2 linked regions of the Homo sapiens genome follow. The protein of the gene in region 2 interacts with the protein of the main gene of each other region in a biochemical or structural test. Each region holds a gene or a part of one and is shown on either strand. Other genes may lie near its edges.

Region 1 (3,748 bases), on a different chromosome or scaffold from region 2:
CTGTGTGAAAACACACAACCCACCCCGGAGGAGTCTCAAGGTTTGAAGTAGGCCCTGGGGACTTTGACATAGGTCCCCAGTGAGTCCTGCAGGCCTCTCACCTGGGGTGAAACTGACATGGGGAAAGGGAAAGGAGAGAGAGAAGCTACCAAAGGAAGGATGGCTGAGAGGAGATGGCGGCCAGGCGGAAAGAGAAGCTGGGGAGCTGACAGCCATGAAGCAGAGGGAGAAAGGGAGGGCAGGGCAAGGTGGCCGAGAAAAAGGGCAGCACACTGCAAGTGGGAGGTTATCAGTTCACGTGCAGGCAAAGTTTTGCAGCACAGCAGTAGATGAAGGCAGATAATAAGTGGTTAACAGAGGAGACAGATGAGTGGAAATCATGAGAACAGACCACTCTCTCAGGAAGAGAGGGAAGAGGGAGCGAGCACAATACCTTATAGAGATTAAGGGAAAGACTTTAGGTTGCAGGATCCCCCTCCCTGCCCCCTCAAAAAAGAACAGAGCATGCTCGGTAACTGAGGGAGGAAAAGTGGTGACATCGCAGAGCAAGAAGAGAAGTAACTTTTACTGAAGGCCAAAGTTTGCAGGCCCTGTGTGAACATTCCCATTTAATACTACTAGCTAGGCCTGCCTTCCGTCCATCCCACACCTGCAAAAGAAGGAGGCTCCTAAGAAACCTCTGCAACTAACACAAACAGCCAGTGAGGGGACTCAATTCAAACCTGCCCCTTCCACCCTCCCCGGCCTGTGCTCTCTTCACCCCACCCACTACCGTCTTCCCCAAAATGGGAGAGCTGCTCATCATCCCACCTAAGTTCTCTATGCTGGGGTCTTCACTTGGTAAAATCTGCCAGAGCCATATGAAAGTGAATGATGACTTAGCTTACCCAGGAAAAAAGAAAACCACCAGGACACACACTTTTCATTTCCTTCCCTCCTCCAAACATGTTGGCCCACACCATCAGATTGAACTCTTCAAAACAAGGATCTGATCATTGTACTGCTGACATGTGAGGGTGAAAGTGCAGGCTATATAACTTACCTGTTAGTGCTTGTGGCACTTTCCTTAATTGGAAGAAAAAATTTAGACGAAGTCACCTTTTTATACTGAGCTTGTTCATATGGATAGAGTAAAACCAACGGGAGAGTGTAATCAAAGGTTATTCTTAATCCATCCACCATCTCCTTACAAAGGTCAACACTGGGAGGATTAAAAAGAAGAGATTAGAGACACAAGTAAGAGGTACTTTCCAAATGTTCACAATGAAGTTGCCGATTTTTAATAGGGCAGTTTTAAATCTAATCATTATATACTACACCTACATACACACAAAATGAAATGGATTTGTAGCTACTGTCAAGATTACATAGGAAAACATAAAGTGCAGAAAATACAGCAGTCACTTTAACTTACCCCATTAAACACAAATAAATATGTTTGAGGCCACACGAGGTGTCCAGCAGCCTGTGCTGCAAAAGTGGACAGGTGGACACACCCCTATCACTGCAAGCTGAAACGGGTTGACCCTAGTGAATCCCTAACCCTTGCTTTAACTCCAACACTCCACCTTTCTGCCTCTCATCTAGCTGGGTCATGTGTACCAGGCAGGATACAAGGAAGCTTTCTCTGACTGGAATGAAAACCTGTTTGTAAACAAGCTTTGAGAAATCCTCACTGCCCATTCTGGTGCTTCTCAAGGAAAGTTCTCGCCCTAAACAGTATCACTGAAAAAACTGTCTCAGTGCTGAGGCAGTGCACTTTCAATGCATCCATGTAAGATGTGTAAATAGTTATTGAAGTACTGAAGATTTCACAAAAGTGACAAGGTTTTAATATTAGATGATTCAATGAATTATCAATAAATTATTAAATATTAAATGAATTCAAAATAACGGAATAGAGACAAGTGTCACCTGTTCTAAATGGAAGCCACCTCTCTAATACAGAGAGAACCACAAAACACCAAACATGCCAGTACTCACTTCTTTTCTGCTGGGATATAATGCACGTTCATGTTGGCATGTGGCATAACGTGATGGTGACGAGGCCTCTCATTGGCTGAAAAGGCTGCATTGATAGCAAAATGCTTCACATAGGATTCCAAAATCGTTATGATGTTGGTCTGGCATGGAAGTTTCACTAACTGTTAACAAAAACATAGACATCTGATGTATGCATCCTAATGTAACAAACCACATATTCCAAGAAACACTGGTCATGTCTGTATCATTTTTTAACTCAAAAATAAACCAAAGCCAATTCTGTTTGAATAGAACTTCTTAAATATGTTCGCAATCTCTTTGATCTTTTTTTCTCTACTGATCATAACCTTATGTAGATTACAATATTACTTTTTTGAATAGATGTAAGCAGTGATTCTTAATCTCAGTGATCTGTGAGAACAACCTGGGGAACTTCTTCAAGTATACCTGCAGTTGGACTCCACCACAGATCAATTAATTCTTAATTTCTGGGCTGAAGCACAAGCAGCAGCATTCTGGAAAGCTCCCAACACAACCCTAATGGGCAGCCAGAGCTGTGTGAGTTTCAATTTTTATCAGCTGCACAGCACCACTGGCAGAGAACTTTAAAACCTGACTCAATACAAAGCTGAAAAATATAAATTTCGTTCCACCAAGATTCGCTATTGCTTACGTCTATGATTGCAAACTATGGCAAAATGAAAATGCCAAACAAATTAATGTTTTATACATTCTCCCTACATACCCGTTTCCTCCTGTTAATGTAGTAACAATCATCCTCCAGCTGCTTCTTCAGAACTTCAGGGATTTCTATAGTTATTGTTCTTTCTTCCATTTCCCTTCTTGTTTGAAGCTCTGGTTCTTCTTTCTGCAATATCAAAATTCCATTTTTAACTATTTAAAACAGTAGAAGAGTCAATATCCAAGGAAGGCCTGCTATGAAACAAACCCAGCTAATCCTCAACAATCATAGTATGCCACGTGTTCTAATTAAAAGTATGTTAAAGGCCAAAAGTTAACTTGTTTGGGGGCACTAAACACAATGCAAATATGTATTTCATTTCTTTCCCATTTCAGTTTACCACTCGGATTTATATTAACTTTGGATGCAGGCAGAAGACATCACAGTCTGTAGGCTCCATTAAAAAATTAATCATTATAAAACAAATAATTTGACTGGAAAGAAAGATAACTATAATTTGTGGAAACATTTTAGGGGCATAAAGAGCCACTGAGAGACTCATACGGCGACTATAAATAAGGGTTGTTTTTCTTTAAATGTCAAATAAAAATTTACATTATTGGTTTAAAAGATGTATCTTTAGAAAACAATTCACAACTGGAGTATTTCACTGTGAATTTTTACCACTAAAATATATAACAAAGAGAAAGTTTTTACAATAAAAACTTTATACCACTTCAGTCTTTTCTTCAATATCACTTTCTTCACTTATTTCTTCATCCTTGTTTTCACTACAGTCAGAGGAACTGCTTAATGCTAGGTGAAACAAAAGCATCCGGTAAACTCGCATTTTATACTTCACCAACCCTTATGTCTACAGATCTTCACGTGTAGTGTGGGTGCTACTGGAAATAATAAACTGCAATTCCATGTATTTTTAAATGCCAAACACAAATACTGTATCTTTCACAATAGAAATTTATTTTGACAACCAATTTCAATGGATGCAAAAATCACACTAGCTAATGATCGGAAAGTGTATTGTCAGTTAGGATCCTACAGTTTCCTGTTGCATTCATAAAT
Region 2 (3,748 bases):
CTCACCCCCTTCAGGTCTTTTGCCAAGGCCAGCTCCATCCCAGGAAGCACACATAGCCCCTGGCAGTGGGACCTTAAGTGTGGATGAAATTGGGGGCTGTCAGGAAGGGGCGCTCTCATCACTGACACAGTGGGCTGCTTCCCGAAGTGTGGAATCTGAAGCGAATAGGTGTGGTTTAGGGAAGCCATTGTCATGGACGGGTCCCTCCAGAGCCAGGCCCACAGAGACTCAAAACCCCACCGTGCTGTGTGATGTTTGGATCTCTGTGCCTGGGCCTTGGTCTGTAAAAGCAGGATCACTTTCCTAAGGCTGCTGGGAGGATTACTCGATGTAGGTGAAGTGTTGAGGGGGGAAACAGAGAGGCAGAGACTTGCTCCAAAGCATGCAGTGGTGGGTTGGGTGCCTCCTAGCAGAGAACATATGGGCAGCGAACCTGTTCTCTTGTCCCCGACCAGGGTCAGTGCCAGTGGCGGCAGCCCCCCGGGAAAGAGATCTACCGCAAGAGCAACATCTCCGTGTACGAAGTTGATGGCAAAGACCATAAGGTGAGTGGGTGGCCAGGGGTTGGGAGAGGCCGGGGAGGCCCTGGGCACCTCCCAGATGATCCTCATCACCACCAAAGGGGAGGGGGCAGCCTTAGCTGAGCCTCTATGGGCAGAATGCCTCTGAGGGGCCGGGCACTGCAGCTCACACCTGTAATCCTAGCACTTTTGGAGGCTGAGGTGGGCAGATTGCCTGAGCTCAGGAGTTTGAGAGCAGCCTGGGTAACATGACGAAACTCCTCGACTAAAAATACAAAAAATTAGCTGGCGTGGTGGTGCGCACCTGTAATCCCAGCTACTCGGGAGGCTGAGGCACAAGAATTGCTTGAACCTGGGAGGCAGAGGTTGCAGTGAGCTGAGATTGTGCCACTGTACTCCAGCCTGGTCGTCAGATTGAGAATCTGTCTCAAAAAAAAAAAAGAAGGCCTCTGAGGGCCTCCTAGCCTGGCACTAGGCCTGTAGTTGGTGCATAGGAAACACAGGGCCTTGTGGTGGCCCCAAGACTCTTCTGCTGGTGGGGTTAGGTTCAAACTTGGGTTGTTCTGGAACCCAGAGGAGATTTTCTTGCCTGAGGCTGCTTTTAGAAGTGCTCTCTCCTTCCGTTGGAAAGAAAGGTGTTTGTTTTTGCCTGGGAGGGGACTGCTTTGTGTGAAATTTCCTCCTGAGAGAGCTCTGTGGCTTTCAAGGTTTGAGTTCCTTGTTCCTGGCCCCGAATGACTTCAGCAGGGCAGGTTGGGGCCTTTGGGACCTGCCTAGCTGTTGTAGAGAACTTGGCCTTTGCCTTATCAGTCTGGGAGGGTCTGGCCAAGTGTACTGGTTTCCCGCAGATGGGCCATACAGCACAGGACAGAGAGGGCAGGCTTCAGGGTGGCTCATGTTGCCTTGTCACTTCCTCACTGACCACAGACAAGTTACTTAACATGGTTTGTTCCTGTTTCCTTGTCCATAAGACGGGAGTCATAATATTTAATATTTACCTAGTTGTGTTGTTAGTGGAATAAATGAGACAGCAAATGTCAAGTGTTTAGTGCAGTGCTTAGCACTAGTATGTGCTTAATAAACACGGGCCTTGTTATTATCGGTGACCTCTTGGGGCTTGATTAGCCTTGGACTCGGAGAATACGCAGGCTGAGCCCAGCCCTTGCCCCTGCTCTGCCTTCCTGAGCATGGCTGTGTGGAATAGCAGAAGGGCCCCCGCTGGAGATGTGGGGGTGCTTTCCAACTGCGCTCTGCCAGCTTTGAGGCTCTGGGCAAGCACTTCCACTCTGGGAGCTTCAGCTTCCTCCTGAGTAAGATGGGCCTGGCAGTGCTGGGCTCGCACAGCTGCCGGGTTGGATGAGAGAGTGGCTGTGGTGTCATAAACCAGGGAGCCCCTTAGTGTGTGCCGTGAAGCCAAACTCGGTCCCATTGTCCCCCTCCTGGAGTGCAGCCAAGTGGACAGACAGGGCTCGAGGTTCCTCCATTCAGCAGACGTTTACCAGGCACCCAGCTTCATACTTAGACTCGTGCTAGGCGCTGGGGACACAGCCATGAACAGGACGGTCTAAATTCCTGCCTCGGAGCCTCAGTTTCACGAGCTGAAACAGAGTTAATGTCTGTGAAGACTGAAGCAGATCCTGCATGGAAGGCACCCAGCTCGTATTTGGCACTCAGAAGGGGTGGCCGGGCTTCATCCAGCTCCACTGGCACCTCCGAAGTGCTGTTGCTCTCTCATTTCCAGTTCCCTGTTCGTCAGAGGCTGACCGAAGACTCCTTCCAGTGTGAAATCCTTCTGGCCTGGCGAGGCGCCCACTTCGCGTGGGCTGGTGCCGGCCGCTGGAACCAGCTGGGTGGGGCCTGTGCCTGCCCCCTGAGCCTGTCTCCCCCCTCCTCAACCCTAGATTTACTGTCAGAACCTGTGTCTGCTGGCCAAGCTTTTCCTGGACCATAAGACACTGTACTTTGACGTGGAGCCGTTCGTCTTTTACATCCTGACTGAGGTGGACCGGCAGGGGGCCCACATTGTTGGCTACTTCTCCAAGGTGCTGGGTCTGGAAACTCGGGGTGGGGAGGGTGGGGAGGGCGAAGGTGGGCATGAACAGAGAGTGGGGCAGAGCCTCCCCAGCGGCCCTGAGCACCTGCCTCCTGCAGGAGAAGGAGTCCCCGGATGGAAACAATGTGGCCTGCATCCTGACCTTGCCCCCCTACCAACGCCGCGGCTACGGGAAGTTCCTCATCGCTTTCAGTGAGTGGTTCCTGGCCTGTCTGGGAGGGGGAGACCTGTGGGGCAGGGGTGCCAGGGCAGGCTGGATCCTAAGTTCCTCTTTCTACTGCTGCCAGGTTATGAGCTCTCCAAGCTGGAGAGCACAGTCGGCTCCCCGGAGAAGCCACTGTCTGACCTGGGCAAGCTCAGCTACCGCAGCTACTGGTCCTGGGTGCTGCTAGAGATCCTGCGGGACTTCCGGGGCACACTGTCCATCAAGGACCTCAGGTGAGGGGGCCTCCCGGGCCCTGGGGGCAGGACTTGCCCTGAGATGGGCCACGATCCTGCTTCCTCATACCCTGTCACCATCCTGGCCAGATCCCACAAGGGCACCAGGTCTGGCATTTGCTCTCATCCCTTTTTGCAGCCAGATGACCAGTATCACCCAAAATGACATCATCAGTACCCTGCAATCCCTCAATATGGTCAAGTACTGGAAGGGCCAGCACGTGATCTGTGTCACACCCAAGCTGGTGGAGGAGCACCTCAAAAGTGCCCAGTATAAGAAACCACCCATCACAGGTGGGTGGGGGGCTGCTGTGTGTCGGGGGCGGTGGGGGAGTGTCAGTATATGGACTGGTAGGAGTCAAGGCCTCCTTATTGCTGTCACATGATCCCAAACCAGTCAGACCAGCTCCCAGGATGGAGCCCGGGGCAGGCCTCTCATTCCTGGGCTTCCCTACCCCTCCCCAGCACAGCCTGCCCTTTTGTTCTCACCTGGAGGAGGTGAAACTGGCCTGAGCCCAGAGGAGGGCAGCCAGGTGTGAGCTGGCCTGGCCCAGGCCCAGCCCTGCCTCCCGCCCCTTCTCCCCACAGTGGACTCCGTCTGCCTCAAGTGGGCACCCCCCAAGCACAAGCAAGTCAAGCTCTCCAAGAAGTGAGCAGCCTGGCCCCTGCTGTCGGACCTGAGCCTCCTGGCTCCCAGCCTGTAAATATGTATAGACCTGTTTTGTCATTTTTTTAA

What was found. Proteins that work in one complex are often made in the same cells at the same time.
Region 1: the proteins of KAT8 (region 2) and MSL3 form a complex in vitro, tested with the Homo sapiens proteins (one study listed by BioGRID).

Annotation. Positions count from the first base shown.
Region 1 is NC_000023.11:11,761,233-11,764,980, reverse strand, and holds part of MSL3 (MSL complex subunit 3), read right to left. Parts: intron 3,482-3,748; coding exon 3,399-3,481; intron 2,852-3,398; coding exon 2,729-2,851; intron 2,145-2,728; coding exon 1,984-2,144; intron 1,202-1,983; coding exon 1,043-1,201; intron 1-1,042. UniProt on the Homo sapiens protein: Non-catalytic component of the MSL histone acetyltransferase complex, a multiprotein complex that mediates the majority of histone H4 acetylation at 'Lys-16' (H4K16ac), an epigenetic mark that prevents chromatin compaction.
Region 2 is NC_000016.10:31,127,595-31,131,342, forward strand, and holds part of KAT8 (histone acetyltransferase KAT8), read left to right. Parts: intron 1-455; coding exon 456-545; intron 546-2,422; coding exon 2,423-2,563; intron 2,564-2,672; coding exon 2,673-2,766; intron 2,767-2,861; coding exon 2,862-3,012; intron 3,013-3,151; coding exon 3,152-3,306; coding exon of another isoform or gene 3,307-3,398; exon of another isoform or gene 3,399-3,600; coding exon 3,601-3,665; 3' UTR 3,666-3,748.